Homo sapiens: one gene and its partner. The protein of the gene in region 2 purifies or fractionates together with the protein of the main gene of each other region. This does not show direct contact. Each region holds a gene or a part of one and is shown on either strand. Other genes may lie near its edges. The genes, in order: UBL7 and UBE4B.

Region 1 (10,743 bases), on a different chromosome or scaffold from region 2:
GCAAGAGAACGGAACTATTCTAAAACCTGTAATTCAAAAATCAATCTTTACTGAAATAAAAAAAATATAAATTACATTTTGGAAGAGAATACCACATAACTGAGACTACTGACCTAAAACAAACAGCACCAAGATGTAGTCAGGTAAAATGACTGGAAATTAAACAAAAAATTTTAAAAACTACTTGGGCAACCTGGTGAAAAGAGCAAGTAACTTGTAAGGGAAAGAAAATTAGATTTCTGTCATCAGATGAAAATGAAATATCTTAAGAAAGAAAATGTGAGCCAACAATTTTATATTTAGCAAACTGATTTTCAAGCATAAAGGCCAGAAATAAACTGCTATTAATATGCAAAAGTTTAGGGAATATCATTCACAGAGAATATTGTAGTCCTTCCAGGAAATCCACTAAAGAACGGGTTCAGTAATAAAAACCACTGGGCCAGGCACAGTGGCTCATGCTTGTAATCCCAACATTTTGGGAGGCCAAGGCGGGTGAATCACTTGAGGCCAGGAGTTTGAGACCAGCCTAGCCAACACGGTGAAACTCTGTCTCTATTAAAAATACAAAAATTAGCCGGGCATTGTGCTACATACCTGTAATCCCAGCTGCTTGGGAGGCTGAGGCAGGAGAATCGCTTGAACCTGGGGTGGAGATGCAGTGAGCCAAGATTGCACCAATGTACTTCAGCCTGGGTGATACAGTGAGACTCTGTGTCAGAAAACAAAACAAAACAACAACAACAACAGCAACAAAAACCAGTGGAAAGCATTAAACATGGAATTCTGATTTTATTTATTTATTTATTTTTGAGATGGAGTTTCACTCTTGTCGCCCAGGCTGGAGTGCAATGGTGTGATCTCGGCTCACTGCAACCTCCACTTCCTGGGTTCAAGCAATTCTCCTGCCTCAAGCTCCCAAGTAGCTGAGATTACAGTGCCCGCCAGCACACCCCCACTAATTTTTGTATTTTTAGTAGAGAAGGGTTTCACTATGTTGGCCAGGCTGGTCTCAAACTCCTGACCTCAGGTGATCTGCCTGTCTCAGCCTCCCAAAGTGCTGGGATTACAGGTGTGCGCTGCCGCACCTGGCCTAAACATGGAATTCTTTGTAGTATTAAGAGAGTTAAAAAGAGGAAGGTAGAGTAATGAGTATAGGCTCAGATAATATACAGCACATCTGTTAAAATGGAGAGAATGAATGGAGGGGATAGAATGAGAAGGGCATATGCAAACATTTTTTTAAACGTCTCAATAATTATATTGGTGGTGATAGTATCATTAGTATTGTTATTTTGAGACAGTTGGGTATGTGATATGGGATAAAGGAAATGAAAATAGATATTTAAATACTGTTGTCCCTTATGTTCTTGAGAACTAGTATTCTCAGTGTGGAAGAAAGGAAATAAAGATGTAATATAGAAAATATTAAATTAAAATTCTGCAGTCTTACTTTGGGAGGCTGAGGTGGGCAGATTGCTTGAGTCCAGTAATTCAAGACCGGCCTGGGCAACATGGTGAAACCCTGCCTCCACAGAAAATACACAAATTAGCTGGGCATGGTGGTGCACAACTGTAGTCCCAGCTACTTGGCAGGCTGAGGTGGGAGAATCGCTTGAGCCTGGGAGTTTGAGGCAGCAGTGAGTCATGATTGCACCTCTGTACTCCAGCCTGGGCAACAGAGGGAGATCCTGTCTCAAAAAAAACAAAACAAAAAGCAACCCATAAAACCAAAAGCCAAAACCAAACCCAACCTCTGTAGTCTTGAATTTGAAGTAGCAGTATAAATATTCTCTATTTATATCTCTATGGATATAGATCTCCCCCTAGCTCCATCCACTAATGTGGCTTACAAGTAACAAACAATTCAGTAGCAATAAGCATCCCTAGTGCCCAGATTGTGGTCTTAATATACCATTTCCCACAGAAAACCATATGAATTTCTTGAAGAAATGGCTAATTTTTATGCCTAGGGCAGGAAGTACAAGATTAGCTAGGAACTCTTGTCATGCTAGATAGCAGGGAGCTATCAAAAACCTCCAGGGTTATGTCAAAAGGACTCAAGAATCAAGTTGAAGAGGAGGCTCCATTGTTATGGTACTGTATTAGTCTGTTCTTGCACTGCTATAAAGAACTACCTGAGACCAGGTGATTTATAAAGAAAAGTGCTTTAATTGACGCACAGTTCTGCAGGCTATACAGGAAGCATGGCTGGGGAAGCCACAGGAAACATACAATCATGGCAGAACGTGAAGGGGAAGCAAGCACATCTTCACATGGCAGAGCAGGAGAGAGAGGGCAAAGGGGGAAGTGCTACACACTTTTGAACAACCAGATCTCTTGAGAACTCACTGTCATGAGAACAGCAAGGGGGAAGTCTGCCCCATGATCCAAACATCATGACCTCCCACCAGGCCCCTCCTCCAACATTGAGGATTACAATTCAACATGAGATTTGGGTGGGGACACAGAGCCAAACCATATCAGGTACCATGAATGTCAACATGAGAAAATACAAGTATATTGTGGAAAATGAGAATCAAGTTTCCTACTATTGCAGAAGGGAGGTAAAATTATAGAGAAGAGGAAGACTAGAGGAAAATATGTGGTATTGGATTGGAATTTGAGGTATTGGTGTGAACTCATATTTTATATATACATATATATTTTGATATATGTGCACATATATATGCTCACATATACATAGATCTATATATACATATACACATCTATATGCACACATATTTAAATATATTTCATAGAAATATAGATGAATGGGTGTGTATATCAATATTCATTTATTTGCTAGGTCTAGTCACTGAAATAGACTGGAAATAATGACATCTCAGTAGCAATAAACACACCTAGCATCCAAACTTGGCTTCTAAATACCATTCCTTACTAAAAGGAACTAAGGCTCTTTGGAGAAATGAATGATGTGACAGATGTGAAAATCTATGACATAACTTATGAAAATGGCAGAGAGATGATCAGCCTCCACCCAACTGGAATGGTTGATGAAAGCTGAATGAGATTGTAAGTTACATGGTATTATTGTATTTATTAATTTCTTGATTTTGCTGGGTTGTACTGTGGCTGTGACATAGAATATATCCTTGTTTTCAGGAAATACAGAAATACTTTGGGTAATGTCTGTAATTGGCTCTTAAACGGATCGGGTGGAAAAACAAAAGAACAATATGCATAGTGAGAGAGTGAGAGAGAAAGAATGATGAGGTAAATGTAAACTATTAACAACTGGGGACTTTGGGTTAAGGGTATGAGGGCATTATTTTGTAATATTTTTGCAACTGTACTGTAAACTTGAAATTATTTCAAAGTAAAAAGTCTCAAGAATATTTGAGCACAGGGGAAATATTCAAGCTAGGTAAAATATGTAGATTACTAAACAAATGTACAGTGTAATCTAAATTTTGTTGAATATACATATTTAAGATTCAGTAAAATTATACTTTTAGAAGCATAAAACAAAGTTAACAATTGTCATCTATTGGTGATAGAATAGCCATGCCCCTCTTAAAGCCAAAAGGCTAGCAGATATCAAGACCTACTCTAAAGTTAGAGAAATCAAGACGTGTGACATTGGCACAATGACAGAAAAATACACCCATGGCACAGAATAAGAGTCAAAAATTGACCCAGACATACATAGTCACCGGATTTATGACAAAGCTGCCACTGAAATTCAGTGGGAACAAAATTTTTAAATAGTGCTGGATCAATTGTACACCCATATGGAAGAGATGAATCTTGATGTCTAACTCCTATCATATACAAAGATTAATGTGAAATTAATCATAGACCTAAATGTGAAAGATAAAATAACACAGAAGAAAACCTAGGATAGTATCTTCATAACGAGGGCAGGCAAAGATTTCTTACATAGGACACAAAAGGCACTAACCATCACAACAAAATTTCAGGCCGGGCGTGGTGGCTACCGCTTGTAATCCCAGCACTTTGGGATCACCTGAGGTCAGGAGTTCGAGCAGCCTGGCCAACGTGGTGAAACCCCGTCTCTACTAAAAATACAAAAATTAGCCGGGCGTGGTGGCAGGTACCTGTAGCCCCAGCTCCTCAAGAGGCTGAGGCATGAGAATCTCTTGAACCCGGGAGGCGGAGGGTGCAGTGAGCCGAGATCGGCCACTACTGCACTCCAATCTGGGCGACAGAGCAAGACTCCGTCTCAAAAAAAAAAAAAAGTTTTAAAATGAAATTAAATTATCTAATACCATTAAGAGTAAAAAAAAAATCATGAACTGGGAAAGTATTCACAATATATAATTTTGATAAATTATGGAGCTCAGGTGCAAGTAACTTAGTAGGCAGGAGAGGAAGGAGTCTAAAGAAGTCTAGTTAGGAAGGATTACTGAAAGAGGGGGTATATCTAAAAATGGGTAGGATGGGAAAGGGAGACTTTGGGAACAGCCATGGGTTCCTAATGCGCCCACAACATACATGGGAGTTATCCTGAAGATAAACTCCCTGAAGACAGTGAAAGCCATTTCAAAACTCCCCATATAACTTATGAGAACAGAGGGGTGATCTGCCTTTAATGTTAGGCCTTCTGAGATCCTGCGATCTGTTCGCTCTCCTCAGTAACATTACCCTGCTCAATTGCTGCCTTAATCCCAGGTCGCACATTGGAATGTGGGAATTCAGCGTTTACATTTACCCACACAGGATCAGCCTTCAGCTGCTACGATCAACTTCAGTATTTTCATATAATCACTTTTTTCTTTCCTTAGTTCTTGAATTATTAATTCCTTGAGAAGAGTCCAATCAGAGGTAGTCTTTCTTCAGTATTTTCGGTAATCCTAATTTCTGTGCAAAAAAATTTCTGTTCCATTTTAACCGTGCAGAACTTTCTGTTATCTAAAACACAGTTTCTCTATGAGAGTTCAGTGAAAATTCCCCTTCCCAAACTGATTCTATGAATGACTGTTAGATAAGCTTCACCACTGCATGTAGAGGGTGTACCAGGAACCCAAGTTAGTAGCTCTCCTCAAAGACCCAACTTTTGGAGGGGGTCATCGTCTGGTTCCTGGTATGCCTCCACAGGTAGGTCCGCCTCAGGAAGTCAGCGGCGAGGAGCACAGAAGAGGCTGCCTTCACCAACGGACAGCAGTTTTCATCGTGAGGGCCGTCGGCAACCGCTTGGATGTGTCTAAAGGGGCCGTTTGGGAACCGGCCCTTCTGGAGGGAAGGGTCGGAGTGGGAGGGGATCCGGGATCCGCCTTACGGCCGAGTGTCCAGCAGCGCGTTCCAACCTGGCAGAACCGACGTACTTCATATGCTCCTCAGGGGAGCGCGGGAATCACCAGGCTGAAGAATGACTGGAAATGGGACCCTCTCCAACCAAAGCACCCAGACATTCCGGCGCCGGACATTTCAAAGAGCGCGGAAGCCACGCCTTCCCCCAGAACCGGAAGCTTTGCAACTAGCGCCTCTTGTAGACTGGCTGTTTATAAGGGGGCGGGGGGCCACAGCGGGAACTGCAACTCCCAGAATGCAGCGCGGAATTTCCGGTTTCCGGCGAGAGGGCCAGAGTGAGTGTTTACACCGGCGGCAGTGCGGCCGGGTTCCTTCCGCGGGACGGGTGAGGGCGCTGGGGCCCTGGGCAGCGCGGGCTCGATGTGTGTCAGCCAAGTAGCTGGTCCCACTGGAGCGGTGAGGTCGCCACCGGATAGTGTTCCTGCCCCATTACTAGCGATCTGTGACCTTGGGCCAGTGATTTTACTGAGTCTTGCTTCCCTCATCTTTAAAATGTGGCTAATGCCTGCCTTAGGGAACCGTTGTGAGGATTAAGTGAGACATGGTATATAAAACGACCTCCTTCTGGCATAAACTTGAGGTGGAAGATACCTTGAGGATGCTTGAAGGTCTGCTAGGCAGCTTCACAGCCTTTTCTTTCCTCTTCTCTATCAGAGGTCTCTTTGGAAGCAATAATGATGACTATAACAAGAACTTATCTTGCTTTGCAAGATTCTTCCGCCGTCAGAGTTTCTGATTTATTTTCTGGGGTTCCATGTATGCCAGGTATGGGGACAAGGATGAAGAAAACTTTAGTCTTTTGTTTTCAAGGGCATTCAAGAATTGGGGTGGAGGAGGGGGCAAGCAGATATTTGTAGCCCTTTTGTTCTGAGGGGATGTGGGAACAACAGAGGAAAGAGAGGGGACTGAGGTTATTGAATCTGTGTTGGTTTCGGTAGGAGTTTGCTAAAAGGCCAAAAAGGGAAGAGAAATTACATGCAGAGTTAGATGAGCAGAGGTGTAAAATAGGGGAGAGCTTTGTTATGAGTGTGTACTTACATGTTGTGGAGGTCCTTTGCAGGGGTAGGGCTCTGTTGGGGAATGAGGCTGGCAGGGAGTTTTGTAAGCCAGGCGATGAAGTTTAGACTTAATTTATATAGATGGTTTAGAGGTATTGGAAGAGGTCTTTTTCTGGGGGGCCGGGGTGGGGCAGGGAGGGACGGAGTCTCTGTCGCCCAAGCTGGAGTGCAGTGGCGCTATCTCGGCTCACTGCAACCTCCACCTCCCGGGTTCAAGCAATTCTCCTGCCTCAGCCTCTCAAGTAGCTGGGATTACAAGCGCCTGCCACCACGCCCTGCAAATTTTTTCTATTATAGTAGAGATGTAGTTTCACCATGTTGGCCAGGCTGGTTTCAAACACCTGATCTTAAGTGATCCGTCCTCCGCGGCCTCCCAAAGTGACAGGATTACAGGTGTGAGCCACCGCGTCTGGCTTTTTTTTTTTTTTTTTTTTTTTTTTTTGCGACAGAGTCTCTCTCTGTCACCCAGGCTGGAGTGCAGTGACGTGATCTTGGCTCACTGCAACCTCAGCCTTCCGAGTAGGTGGCACTACAGGTGCGCACTACCACGCCCAGCTAATTTTTGTATTTTTAGTAGTGACGGGTTTCACCATGTTGGCCAGGCTGGTCTTGAACTCTTGAGCTTAGGCAATCCGCCCGCCTAGGCCTCTCAAAGTGCTAGGGTTACAGGCATGAGCCACCGCGCCCAGCCCGACATTGGAAGAGTTCTAAGCAGAGAAGTGACTTGGTCAGATCTGTGTTTTAGAATGATGGGTTGTGGCCAGGCGCAGTCGCTCATGCCTGTAATCCCAGCACTTTGGGAGGCCGAGGCAGGTGGATCACGAGGTCAGGAGATCGAGACCATCCTGGCTAACACAGTGAAACCCCGTCTCTACTAAAAGTACAAAAAAAAAAAAAAATTAGCCTGGCGTCGTGGCGGGTGCCTGTAGTCCCTGCTACCTGGGAGGCTGAGGCAGGAAGGCAGGAGAATGGCGTGAACCTGGGAGGTGGAGCTTGCAGTGAGCCGAGATCGCGCCGCTGCACTCCAGCCTGGGCAACAGAGCGAGACTCCGTCTCAAAAAAAAAAAAAAAAATGATGGGTGTTGTTAGGTGGCAGCATAGATATTTGATAGGGAGAGGCAAGAGGCAGGGAACTTGTTATAAAGCTGTTCTACTGGTTCAAGCAACAGTTGAAGAAAATTGGAAAAAGGGGCATACAGAAGGGAGAGGGTTAGATGATCTCTCTCACAACATTCCTATTAGATTGGATGGCGTTTTTATGTCCACGTTAGGGATGAAGAAACTGAGGCCTAGAGAGCTGTCCATCACAGTATGAGTAGAGAGAGAACCCCAGATTCTAGTTCTGGCCTCCTGATGGTACGCCCTATGCCTCTTCAACAGTGTCACATTGAATTGTCTTTCATTCAACCCTTTGGTGGGTGGGGGTGGAGTAGAGTGGTGGTCTGTCTTTTAACCACTGAGGTTTTGTTCTTTTACAGGGAGAAAGAGAGAGCGCGAAAGAGAGAGGATGTCTCTCTCAGACTGGCACCTGGCGGTGAAGCTGGCTGACCAGCCACTTACTCCAAAGTCTATTCTTCGGTTGCCAGAGACAGAACTGGGAGAATACTCGCTAGGGGGCTATAGTATTTCATTTCTGAAGCAGCTTATTGCTGGCAAACTCCAGGAGTCTGTTCCAGACCCTGAGCTGATTGGTGAGTCTCTCTGGACTGGGGTTGGGCTGCTGCTCTGATCTCTTTTGGGGGAGGATACTTCTGGAATTACAAGAGTAAAGTAAGGGCTTGGGATTTGTTGCCTCATAATGTTAACACTCCAGGGAAGTGAATGTTGGGTAAATAGAAACACAAATCATATAATGAAACTATTGGTTGCCATTTCAGCCATGTATTATACTGAACTACCTTATCACCAGGTTCTTTATGACATTGTCTTGTTTTTTGTTTTTGTTTTTGTTTTGCTGTGTAGCCCAGGCTGGAGTGCAGTGGTGCGATCTCGGCTCACTGCAACCTCTGTCTCCTGGGTCCCAGTTCAAGCAATTCTGCCTCAGCCTCCCGAGTAGCTGGGATTACAGGCACACACCACCATGCCCAGCTAATTTTTGTATTTTTAGTAGAGACATGGGATTTCACCATGTTGGCCAGGCTGGTCTTGAACTCCTAACCTTGTGATTCTGCCCGCCTCAGCCTCCCAAAATGCTGGGATTACAGGCATGAGCCACCGCTCCTGGCCAACATTGTGAATTCTTTTTCTGAAAGAACAGAAGTTTGGGATGAGTTAGGAAAGGAGAAGTTGGTCAGGGGAGGCTCCTCAGTATATTTGAGGTAGGTCTTCAGGGATGATTAGAAGGATTTTTGCTTGGTTGACTGAGTAAAGGAAAGGCAGTAAAAAAGAAAAAGTGGCGTGGGCAGTCCAGGTGGAGGAGGGAGGAATTTAAATATAATTAAATTACACTGAAAAGGTAATTTTTAATAGCTAAAGGATCCAACTGGCAAGAAAGATGTTTTCAGTCATACCTGGATTGGGTTCATCCTATTTTGTTGTTTTTCCATTGATTTAAATTGGGCAGCCTCCACAATGTTAAACTCCAGAGTTTTTCTGTGGATAGATTCTGTGTGAATCCTTTTTTTTTTTTTTTTTTTTTGAGACGGAGTCTTGCTCTGTTGCCCAGGCTGGAGTGCAGTGGCGAGATCTCAGCTCATTGTAACCTCTGTCTCCCAGGTTCAGGCAATTTTCCTGCCTCAGCCTCCTGAATAACTGGGATTACAGGCCCGCACAACCACAACTGGCTAATTTTTGTGTGTATGTGTGTATATATATATATATTTCTTTTTTTTTGAGACAGAGTCTTGCTCTGTTGCCCAGGCTGGAGTGCAGTGGTGTGATCTTGGCTCACTGCAACCTCCGCCTCCTGGGTTCAAGCAATTCTCCTGCTTCAGCCTCCTGAGTAGCAGGGATTACAGGCGTCTGCCACCATGCCTGGCTAATTTTTGTATTTTTGGTAGAGACGAGGTTTACCATCTTGGCCAGGCTGGCCTTGAACTCCTGACCTCAGGTGATCCACCCACCTCGGCCTCCCAAAGTGTTGGGATTACAGGTGTGAGCCACCGTGCCCGGCCCTAATTTTCGCCATGGCCCAGGTTTCGCCATGTCGGCCAGGCTCCAAAAGTGCTGGGTTTATAGGTGTGAGCCACCACATCTGGCCAGATTCGATGTAAGTCCATTTTATGAGTTTATATTTGCAAATAGTTGTTGAAATGTATTTAATTGGCTAGGCATGGTGGTTCACGCCTGTCATCCCAGCACTTTGTGAGGCTAAGGCAGGAGGATCCCTTGAGCCCAGGAGTTAAGAGACTAGTCTAGGCAACATGGCAAAACCCCGTCTCTACAAAAAACTACAAAAATTAGCTGGGTGTGGTGGCATGTGCCTGTAGTCCCAGCTACTCAGGAGGCTAAGGTGGGAGAATTGCTTGACCCCAGGAGGTTGAGGCTGCAGTGAACCGTGATGGTGCCATTGCACTCAAGCCTGGGCAACAGAGTAAGACCCTGTTTTCCAAAAAAAAAAAAGTATTTGTTAAGTTATTGAATAAGAGTATCTTTTAAAACATGTATCATTCTCCAGCTATCTAATCAAAATAAGGTTCTCGGGACAAAAACCATGTAAATTTGTTTTGAGGAGCAAAATATAAGTGGACAGTTCTTTTTTTAGATCTGATCTACTGTGGTCGGAAGCTAAAAGATGACCAGACACTTGACTTCTATGGCATTCAACCTGGGTCCACTGTCCATGTTCTGCGAAAGTCCTGGCCTGAACCTGATCAGAAACCGGGTGAGTGAGGGGCAGCCCTTAGGCAGGCAGAGTTTCTGTAATATCCGCAAGGGAAGGATCTGTGTGTTCTTGAGGCACAAGCCTGGGTGGAACAAAGGGATGATTTACTGAGCTGATGATAAATGATATCTTTATTACTTATTGGATTAGACCATGCTGATAAACAGAGTCCAATTTTGACCTTCTTACTGCCGGCATCACTAATGGAAGATTTGTTTCTCCATTTTGTTTTTTGTTTTTTGGTTTTTTTGAGACAGTCTCACTCTGTTGCCCAGGCTGGAGTGCAGTGGCACAATCTTGATCTTGGATCACTGCAACCTCCGCCTCCCAGGTTCAAGTGATTCTCATGCCTCAGCCTCCCGAGTAGCTGGGATTACAGGCATGAGTCACCATGCCCAGCTAATTTTTTTTTTTTTTTTTTTTCTGAGACGGAGTCTCACTCTGTCTCACAGGCTGGAGTGCAGTGGTGTGATCTTGGCTCACTGCAAGCTCCGCCTCCCGGGTTCACACCATTCTCCTGCCTCAGCCTCCCAGGTAGCTGGGACTACAGGCGCCCACCACCAAGCC
Region 2 (10,096 bases):
TGATTTTTTTTTTCAATTTGTATCTGTTTTTTTTTTTTTTTTGAGACAGAGTCTCACTCTGTTGCCCAGGCTGGAGTGCAGTGCCGTGATCATGGCTCACTGCAAGCTCAGCCTCCTGGGTTCACACAATTCTCCTGCCTCAGCCTCCTGAGTAGCTGGGATTACAGGTGCGTGCCACCACACCCGCTAATTTTTGTATTTTTAGTAGAGATGGGGTTTCACCATGGTGATCAGGCTGGTCATGAACTCCGGACCTTTTGATCTGCCCACCTCAGCCTCCCAAAGTGCTGGGATTACAGGCGTGTGCCACCATGCCCAGCTAATTTTTGTATTTTTAGTAGAGACGGGGTTTCACCACGGTGGTCAGGCTGGTCTTGAACTCCTGACCTCGTGATCCACCTGCCTCGGCCTCCCAAAGTGCTGGGATTATAGGTATGAGTCACCACGCCAGGCCTACTGTATTAATTTTTATTATGTTTCTCTATCTCTTAAGTTCATTTTATGGTGAGGTGGTAACAATCTGTGAGGAACTACTAGCACACAGACAAGAGGGCAGTGTTTTAATGACCGAGTCACGAACACAGTACTCACAGAGTTCAGTCAGCCAGTCATTCACATCTTCCATCGTTGCATTCACACGCGTCTCATCATTGGGAAGAGTAATCCGACATCTTGGGTGAAAAATATACGTGGGATCAACTGTTTCTAACTTGATTTTTGTACTTAGCTGCTGCAGTACCCAAAGGAAATTCAGCATAAATCCATCTGTAGACACCAATCTATCATCTGTCTGTGAAAGTTGAAAAGAAAAAGTATTTTTAAACATTAAAAAAAATTTTTTTTGAGATGGGGTCTCACTCTGTTGCCCAGGCTGGAGCGAAGGGGTGTGATCTTGGCTGCAACCTCCACCTCCCAGGCTCAAGCAATCCTCCCACCTTAGCCTCCCAAGTAGCTGGGACCTAAAGTGATCCGCCCACCTCAGCTTCCCAAAGTGCTGGGATTACAGGTGTGAGCCACTGTGACCAGCCAAGAAAAAGTATTTAAAATAACATGAATAGAAATTTTGGCAAACTTTGTAAGAAAGCAGACTGAACTTTCAAACATAACTGTATCCTAAAGTCAATGAGAAGACATATATCTCATCACCACTGTCATTCCATTAATTCTATATTAGCAGGTGCTACTTGTTGAATACCGCCTATTATATAATTATTATTTATATAAGAGGCATTTTATACATTCTTTTCTTTTCTTTTCTTTTTTTTGAGATGGAGTTCCACTCTTGTTGCCCAGGCTAGAATGCAGTGGCACGATCCTCGCTCACTACAACCTCCGCCTCCCGGGTTCAAGTGATTCTCTTGCCTCAGCCTCCCGAGTAGCTGGGATTACAGGCACCCGCCACCACGCCCGGCAAATTTTTTGTATTTTTAGTAGAGATGGGGTTTCACCATATTGGCCAGGCTGGTCTCGAACTCCTGACCTCAGGTGATACGCCCGTCTCGGCCTCCCAAATTGCTGGGATTACAGGCATGAGCCACCACGCTTGGCCATTTTATACATTCTTTTACTGAACCATCACGATAATTCTTACAGGTCAGTAATACTGCTGTTAACATTTTATGCAGGAGGAAATAAAGACTCAGAGACCCTGAAGTGATTTGCCTGAGGCTCAAAATTAGTAAGTAGAAACACAATAAATGTTTCTTTCTTTCTTTCTTTTTTTTTTTTGAGACAGGGTTTTACTCTGTTGCCCAGGCTGTAGTGCAGTGGTGCAAACATAGCTCACTGCAGCCTCAACCTCCCGGGCTTAAGTGATCCTCCCACTTCAGCCTCCTGAATAACTGGGTCTACAGGTCTATGCCACTATACTGGCTAATTTTTTATTTTTTTTGTAGAGACAGGGTCTCCCTATGTTGCCCAGGCTGGTCTCGACCTCCCTGGCTCAAGTGATCCTCTTGCCTCAGCCTCCCAAGTAGCTGAAACTATAGGCATGCACCAGCCACCATGCCCAGATGACTTTTGTATATTTTGTAGAGATGGGGTCTCATTATGTCGCCAGGGCTGGTCTCAAATGCCTGGGCTCAAGTGATCCTCCCACCTCGGCCTCCCAAAGTGCTGAGATTACAGGCGTGAGCCACCATGCCCGGCCTCTTTCTCCTCTTTATTTCCCTCAAGAGCATCAAAACAAGTTGCTCCACTTCTTATCATGTGACATTGTTTCTCTAGGTGACAGCATCAGCATGCTCCTGCATTAGCAATATAACAATGTAACTTGATTACCTCTGTTAAGAAAAAAATAATAATACAACAATGATAAGAATGATAGTTAATATTGGTTGAGTGATCACTGTGTACCAGGCACCACTCTAACAGCTTTATATATAATAAACCCAGTACCAGTAGTACCGCAGCTTAGCAGATGAGGAAATGGAGGCACAGAGGAGTCACTGTCTAAGGTCCCGCAGTTAGTAAACGGTGGAACCACGATCAGAAATCACAAGATCTGTGCTCTTCTCTCTACATGATTTTTGCTTCTGAGTATACACATCACATCATTCATTCATTATTTATTACTAGTCAAGGAAGGATGCCCTTTTCTCCTCTGGCAAAGCAGCTGCAGCCACTGGCCTGTCTCACCCGGACCGAAGCACTCACGCCCTTGCAGCTGCCTTCTTGGGTCTGTTCCTGGCTGCCCCCTTGGGTCTGTTCCTGGCTGCCCCCTTCTGTTTTGGTCCGTCTACATAGCAGCTTTTGTGGTTTCCCTGCTGAAAACCCTCCCATGACAGTTCTGATCACGTAAACCTAACCCGATGGCGCCCTGCCTATCCACTAACTCCAGGACCCGACATTCCCTCCTGTTCACTCTTCTCCAGCCACAAAAGCCTGCGTGCTGGGCTTGTACCAAAGCTGCTTCGTTTCCACATTGGATAGCTCTTTTCTCAGCCACTACAATGGCTGGCTCCTTCCTATGAAACAAATGTCACCTCCTCAGGGAGGCCTTTCCTGCCACCCAATCAAAAATCACCTTCAGATCTTCCTTCTGGTACCTACAGTTCTTCTCATGTCATTTACTTTGCTCTATTTTCTTCACTGATTATACAACTGTCTAAAATCATGTATTTATATGTCTACTTGTTTATTCTGTGGAACATGGGCTCCACAAAAGCAGGAAGCTCGTCTACCTTGTTCAATACTGTACCCCCACTCCTAGAACAGTGCCTGGTAGGTGCTGACTAAATCTGGGTCAGATGAATGAATTTGACAAACAGCGAAAAGCAGTCTGTAGGAATCCTACCTGCATCTGTGCTTTCTTCATATTGGCATTGACGACAGCCGCCATGTAACTGAGAGCAGCCTCACGGGTTTCGCCATTTAACAAAATACTATGCAGAATCTTAAAAAGCTCTTGCTGAAATTTATTTTTAAAAAGAAGAAACAAATTAAAACTATTTTGCACATGATTCCTTTTTGACTTCACGAACAGCTAGCCTACTTCCCACGTTCTCTCCTCTCCCACTTCTACTCATTTTAGAAGAGCCTGAGTGAAAGAATATAAGAAATATCCACATCCAACTATGTCAAAGTAATGAGCATGAAAGCAGAATATGGAGTGGGGGAGGTAGGCAGTTACAGTTTTTTGTTTTTTTTTGAGACAGAGTCTAGCTCTGTTGCCAGGCTGGAGTGCAGTGGTGCAATCTCAGCTCACTGCAACCTGCGCCTCCCAGGTTCAAGCCATTCTCCTGCCTCAGCCTCCCGAGTAGTTGGGATTACAGGCACACGCCGCCACACCCAGCTAGTTTTTGCATTTTTGTTGTTTTTTTTTTTGAGACGGAGTTTTGCTCTTATTGCCCAGGCTAAAGTGCAGTGGCACATCTCGGCTCAGTGCAACCTCCGCCTCCCGGTTTCAAGCGATTCTCCTGCCTCAGCCTCCCAAGTCGCTGGGATTACAGGCACCCGCCACCATGCCCAGCTAATTTTTTTTGTATTTTAGTAGAGATGGGGTTTCACCATGTTGGTCAGGCTGGTCTCAAACTGCTGACCTCGTGATCCACCTGCCTTGGCCAATTTTTGTATTTTTAGCAGTGACGAGGTTTCACCATGTTGGCCAGGATGACTTCCTGACCTCGTGATCAGCCCATCTCAGCCTCCCAAAGTGTTGGGATTACAGGCATTAGCCAACACGCCCAGCCGGCAGTTACAGTTTTAATAAAATAGGCTTTGTTACTTCTTTCCCATGATCAAAATTACCTTAGTTACCCAAGCCTGTAACTTCTTTGCCTGTTTCTTTTTTTTGAGATGGAGTCTTGCTCTGTCGCCCAGGCTGATGTGCAGTGGCGTGATCTTGGCTCACTGCAACCTCCACCTCCTGGGTTCAAGTGATCCTTGTGCCTCAGCCTCCCGAGTAGCTAGGTAGCTGGGATTACAGGCACGCGCTGCCATGCCTGGCTAATTTTTGTATTTTTAGTAGAGACGGGGTTTCGTCATGTTGGCCAGGCTGTTCTCAAACTCCTGACCTCAGGTGATCCACCCCACTCGGCCTCCCAAAGTGTTGGGATTACAGGCATGAGCCATCACACCCGGCCCTTCTCTGCCTTTAAGTTTGAGAATTGAAGACATATTAATCTGCATTTGGGATAAGCAAGTCAGTGAGGGTGTGTGCAAACTAACAATCCTTGCTCACCCTCACAGTGTAAATGCCTAAGGGCCAGCTGGAGGAGGAGCCGGGCCACTAAGCTTAGGACCAGTTCCCAGTGATGCTACATACAAAGGCAGCATACTGCTGTTGTTACAACCTGTTATTCAAGACACAGGCTACTTACTTATAGTTTATCTTTTTTATGTAAGATCGAATTGGCTTTTGTTAGCCGTTTGTCTACTGGGCATAGTCCAGTCTACAAAATAAAAGCTCTGTATCTGGAGCTCATCTTTGATACTTCCTCTGGATTTGTTTTCTGAACACTTACCCTTCCGAGCTCTAAGTAATGCTGCAATGATTGGCTAACCACACGAGTGTTTTCCAGGGTAATGGCAGGCCCTGAGAAGTATTTTTCAACCACTTTAACCTGGAAAGAGAAGGAAAAAATGCAGTCAACATATAATGCACATTTGGGAAAGAATCTGAATAAAAGGGCAGCAAAGTACAAGTAGCCACTATACTTACATCATCTTCTGCAAAGACTGAGAAGCTAAAGAAAGCCCCTAAGTAAGAGAGTCTCTGCAGCTCCCGCCCACAGCCAGGACTTAAGGATTTCGGCAACCACAACCGCAAAGAAGCAACCTAGGCAGAAGATGGAAGAGCCAGTCAAGCCGCTGAACAGGCCGGTGGGGTAAAAATGTAATGAAAACTCTCCAGCTCCTCTGTATTTTCACAAGATATTATTAAAACTTTTATGTTTCAGCCAGGCATGGTGGCTCACGCCTGTAATCCCAGCACTTTGGGAGGCCAGTGTGGGTGGGGGTGGGTCACCTGAGGTCAGGAGTCCGAGACAACCCTGGCCAACATGGAGAAACCCCGTCTCTACTAAAAATACAAAAATTAGCCGGGCGTGGTGGTGTGCGCCTGTAATCCCAGCTACTGGGGAGGCTGAGGCCAAGAGAATCGCTTGAACCCAGGAGGCAGAGGTTGCAGTGAGCTGAGATTGCGCCACTGCGCTCCAGCCTGGGTGACAGAGTGAGACTCTGTCTCAAAAAAAAGAATGTTTAAGTTTCAGGATACTATTGGATGAAGTTCAAATGAACTCTTCTTATACCACCAAAGGACTCGAATAACTTTTCCATACCTCTTGTTAGTTTAGTTGTACAATACTTGTCAAGGGAAAAAAAACAGGCCCGGTGCGGTGGCTCACGCCTGTAACCCAACACTTTGGGAGGCTGAGGCGGGTGGATCACCTGAGGTCAGTAGTTCGAGACCAGCCTGGCCAACATGGTAAAACTCCATCTCTACTAAAAATACAAAAAAATTAGCCTCGCATGGTAATGCATGCCTGTATTCCCAGCTACTTGGGAGGCTGAGGCACGAGACTCACTTGAACCCAGGAGGCGTAGGCTGCAGTGTGCCAAGATCCCACCACTGCACTCCATCCAGCCTGGGTGACAGAGTGAGATTCTTAGAAAAAAAAGGGAAAAAAATCATAGAAATGAACAACTGTAATGCAGGATATAACGTGTCTAACAAAAATGTAACAGTTGAGAGCCTCCCAGACACGTTACCTCCGCCTACACCTAAATGTCCTTCAAGAGACATTTTCCAGGCCATCTCACTAGAGGAATGCCTTCTGGGTTATGATATATTCACTGAAAATGTGCAAGCCCATCAGGTGAGTGCTTACCAAATTGCACACAGGGTGTGTCTTCCCAAACTTGGTTTCACAGAGCTCACCTAGTGCCTAGAAATAAGATCAGAGTCATTTAAATGCATTTCATCTTAAACTGACTGTCATTTGTAGCATAAAGAAACAGTTTTAACTGCTGCTATAAATTCGTTCCCTCTAAAATGGCACACATGCATTCCCTCTGAAATGGCAGCAGCTTCACTACTTTTTCTGATTAATAAACTAAAACACATGCAATGTGAAAACTTGAAATAAAACAGAAATATAAAATGAAACTAAAAATTACTCAAGCTTTACCCTCAAAGATAACCTCTATTGATATTTTGAGCAACAGTTTTCAGATATATTTTTGTGTACTGTATCTATATATGTTTTTTACAAAAAAGTTTTTCCACTTCATATCTTTCCATGTCAAAAAGATTTATTTCATAAACTTTAGATGGCTCCTCTTGCCAGTGTTAAACATGACTATAAATAATTACAATTTAATAAGCTATCAAATTCAAAACATATTTAAAAACATAACTTGGTTTCAAGATTTCTAGTACTTTTAAGAATTCCAACACTTTCCTTCAGACATCCAACCATCCTAACATTAGAGAACGATGAAAAACACTTTTTAGGGACATAAACATAATTTAGCATGCCCATGGTAACTCAATCAAACATTATTTTCAACAGTTAATTTCCTCTGTGATTCGGACGCAGCTCTAGAAGTTGCTACATGAGCCGAAGAGTGCATTTAGGCATTGACACAACGTTGAGATGCCTTTGAGGTTCAGGCAGCCTCAACTCAGAAGGAAGCGTTCTCACTGCCTAGTGCAGGAGTTCACAAACGTGGCTGCATATTAGGATCACATGGGAAGCCTTTGGAAACCCCAATGCCATGCCACACCCCTGGTGAATTAAATCACAAGGTCTGGGGTGGGGAGCCAGGCAGAAACACCTTTAAAGATCCCCAGCTGATTCCAAGGTGATTCCAACGTATGGCACAGCAGGATCCACTGACCTAGAGAATGATCACAATGATTTCTGATTTTAGCTTCAACAGTCTTCCGCTTCCTGCCTCTCATTATTGTACCCTCTCACTCACTGTGTCCTCGTTATTATGCAAGCATCAATAATGGCACAAAATGAAATCACTGTCTACCACAATGGAGGCCTCTGTCTTTTGAACAAAAGGACATTTTGGTGATATCAGATGCTAAAAGCTCCTCACTGAAACATCAAGCTAATTCACACCACAACCCAAAAGCCAACAGTCCCATGAAGGAACATCTACATAATATGGTGATAATTAGTGTTCACTAAAATATTTCATCACTGAACTCAAACAATCAGATTATTCCACTTCCTTTTATCTGCCACAGGGAGAACAATACATAAGGATTCAAATAATTTTACCAGGAGCCCCAATAACATGTACAATGGAAAGAGCTCTGGCATAAATCCACTTAAAATTATTTTTTAAAGTAGGAATTCTGGTTTCACCTTCTAATTTCCCAGCATTCTTGTAGCCTTTTAGTGCCATGACAGGTTTGAATTTTTTAAATAGATAAATACACCCTTTGTGTACAGCTCTGTTTTAACATTTATCACAGTATCTGTTCAACTGTTGCGCTGTAGCTCTTATTTTTGCAGTAGATTATGAGTGCCTTGAGGAGAGGGACCTTGTCTTCCTAGCTTCTGTATCACCAGTGTCTAGCACAGAACAGATCGTCAGTAATGAATTCATGGTATAATGGAATCCAATCAGTGGAATAAGTAAAAGAAATAAATACAGTAAGAAAAACAACCATGGTCTCAATTTACATAAGACTTAATTTATACATAGAATAAACTAATTTCATTTTGATATTTTTTCCTTTACACTTCTGCAACGAAAATATTCAGTAACACTTCAAAATACTTTTCTCCCAAAATTTCAAATAAGCGAATTCAGAACAGAAAGGAGCTTCTAATTTTCATTCTAGTTTCAGCATTTTCACAACATTCAAGCCTCCCCATGGGAATCTAGCTGAAGCTTCTGTCCACAATGTATGCCTGCTCTAAGTGCGTTAAAGAGCTAAGCAGATTTCTACTTCCCAAGTAAATATGACCTTAGGAAACAGGGAGGGTGAACAAGAGAGCTACACTGAGATTTTCTGCACAAAGTAAACACATAAAGATAAAATTGTATTCATTTTCTTAGTATGTACAGCTTTGCCTTTTTTATTTGCATTTTTAATAGGTTTTTTTTTTTTAAGTAACAAAATTTCATCCCAACTATGGTATGCTCATTGCTAGGAGATAAGTTATCTTTTTCATAAGCTATACAAAGTACATTGTAATAAGTGCATTTAACTCCTGTCTAGGACTTGGATAGGTGGAAGATGTACCAGGCTGCTAACTGTCTTCACTGATGCATCTCACTGCACACCAAACACTCTGCATGGCCAACACAGTGATTTCATGTTTTAAATTTGAAAACAAGGTTGATCTCATGGACCTGAAAGAAAAGTATATGTCAAAATAATCTGAAAGAAAAACATCTATTGAATGAGTTAAAGAAAAAGAACAAAGTTTTACCATGAGGGGGTATTTAAAGTAGTCACTGTCGAGGGAGCACTCTTTGGCAGCAAGAGCCAGGCCTTGTAAAATGGGGATAAATATCTATAAGAAAAAAAACAAAATCAGAAATATAAGTTTAAGAGAATCTAAGAGTGGGAAGTATGTCAAATAAGGTGCTAGAACTGAATGTCCAAATTTCATTCCTTCCCCAGGGAAAAGCTTTTTTGCATATAAAAGTCTAGAATTCAGCCAGAGTGTTGACCTGTTCTTTGACAAGTCTAACCATAAAGTAATACAGCTGAATTCTCCAGAAGTAAGAGGAGTTTGGTGAACTCTAATACTCTGACAGGACCCCCAGTAATTCAACAAAACCCAGTAATTCAACAAAACCCATACATTTGGAGCCTGTTGAAGAACTCTCCAGGAGTCGTTGCTCTACTCAATTAAATTCTGCACATCTCAGCAACTAATATGTTCTTGATTACCAAGCATCTATAACCTGTTAAAAAATTCAATTAAATGTTCCAATATTTCCTCCTTTCTATCTATCTATCTATCTATCTATCTATCTATCTATCTATCTATCTATCTATATTGAGACGGAGTCTCGCTCTGTCACCCAGACTGGAGTGCAATGGCACAGTCTTGGCTCACTGCAACCTGTGCCTCTGGGGTTCAAGTGATTCTCCTGCCTCAGCCTCCCGAGCCAGCTGGGATTACAGGCATGTGCCACCACACCTGGCTAATTTTTGTATTTTTAGTAGAGACGGGGTTTCACTTTGTTGGCCACGCTGGTTTCGAACTCCTGACCTCGTGATCCACCCGCCTCAGCCTCCCAAAGTGCTGGGATCACAGGCATGAGCTACCGCGCTTGGCCCTCTATCAATATTTTTTAAAAGCTTTTCCCCATTTATTTTGAGGAAAACAAGATAAACAGGCCAACAATCAACATTATTACTACATTAAACTTAAATTAGAGCAAAGAGCTAGTTGGTAAATGTTGAAATTTACAAAGAAAGCTTTAGTTAGAAAGCCTTACCTCCACATATAGTGTAATTAATACATTAACCTGCTATTGGCACTTAAAGGAACTCAAATCTGCTTTTATACATTTATGATTAATACCAGGTAACACCATGTAAGATTTACTCAGCCTAGCTCATCTTCAAATTTCACAATGCAAGCACTGATCAACACATTTAGGGAGTTGGTTG

The links.
Region 1: the proteins of UBE4B (region 2) and UBL7 purify together in Homo sapiens (affinity purification with mass spectrometry; 5 studies listed by BioGRID and IntAct, with this or other methods). This does not show direct contact.

What each region holds. Positions count from the first base shown.
Region 1 is NC_000015.10:74,455,985-74,466,727, reverse strand, and holds the start of UBL7 (ubiquitin-like protein 7), read left to right. Parts: upstream 1-5,567; 5' UTR 5,568-5,691; exon of another isoform or gene 5,692-5,969; coding exon of another isoform or gene 5,970-6,060; intron 6,061-7,624; exon of another isoform or gene 7,625-7,709; intron 7,710-7,831; coding exon of another isoform or gene 7,832-7,860; coding exon 7,861-8,044; intron 8,045-10,056; coding exon 10,057-10,176; intron 10,177-10,743.
Region 2 is NC_000001.11:10,125,682-10,135,777, reverse strand, and holds part of UBE4B (ubiquitin conjugation factor E4 B), read right to left. Parts: intron 8,985-10,096; coding exon 8,901-8,984; intron 6,387-8,900; coding exon 6,330-6,386; intron 5,279-6,329; coding exon 5,162-5,278; intron 5,064-5,161; coding exon 4,965-5,063; intron 3,410-4,964; coding exon 3,296-3,409; intron 791-3,295; coding exon 592-790; intron 1-591. UniProt on the Homo sapiens protein: Ubiquitin-protein ligase that probably functions as an E3 ligase in conjunction with specific E1 and E2 ligases. May also function as an E4 ligase mediating the assembly of polyubiquitin chains on substrates ubiquitinated by another E3 ubiquitin ligase.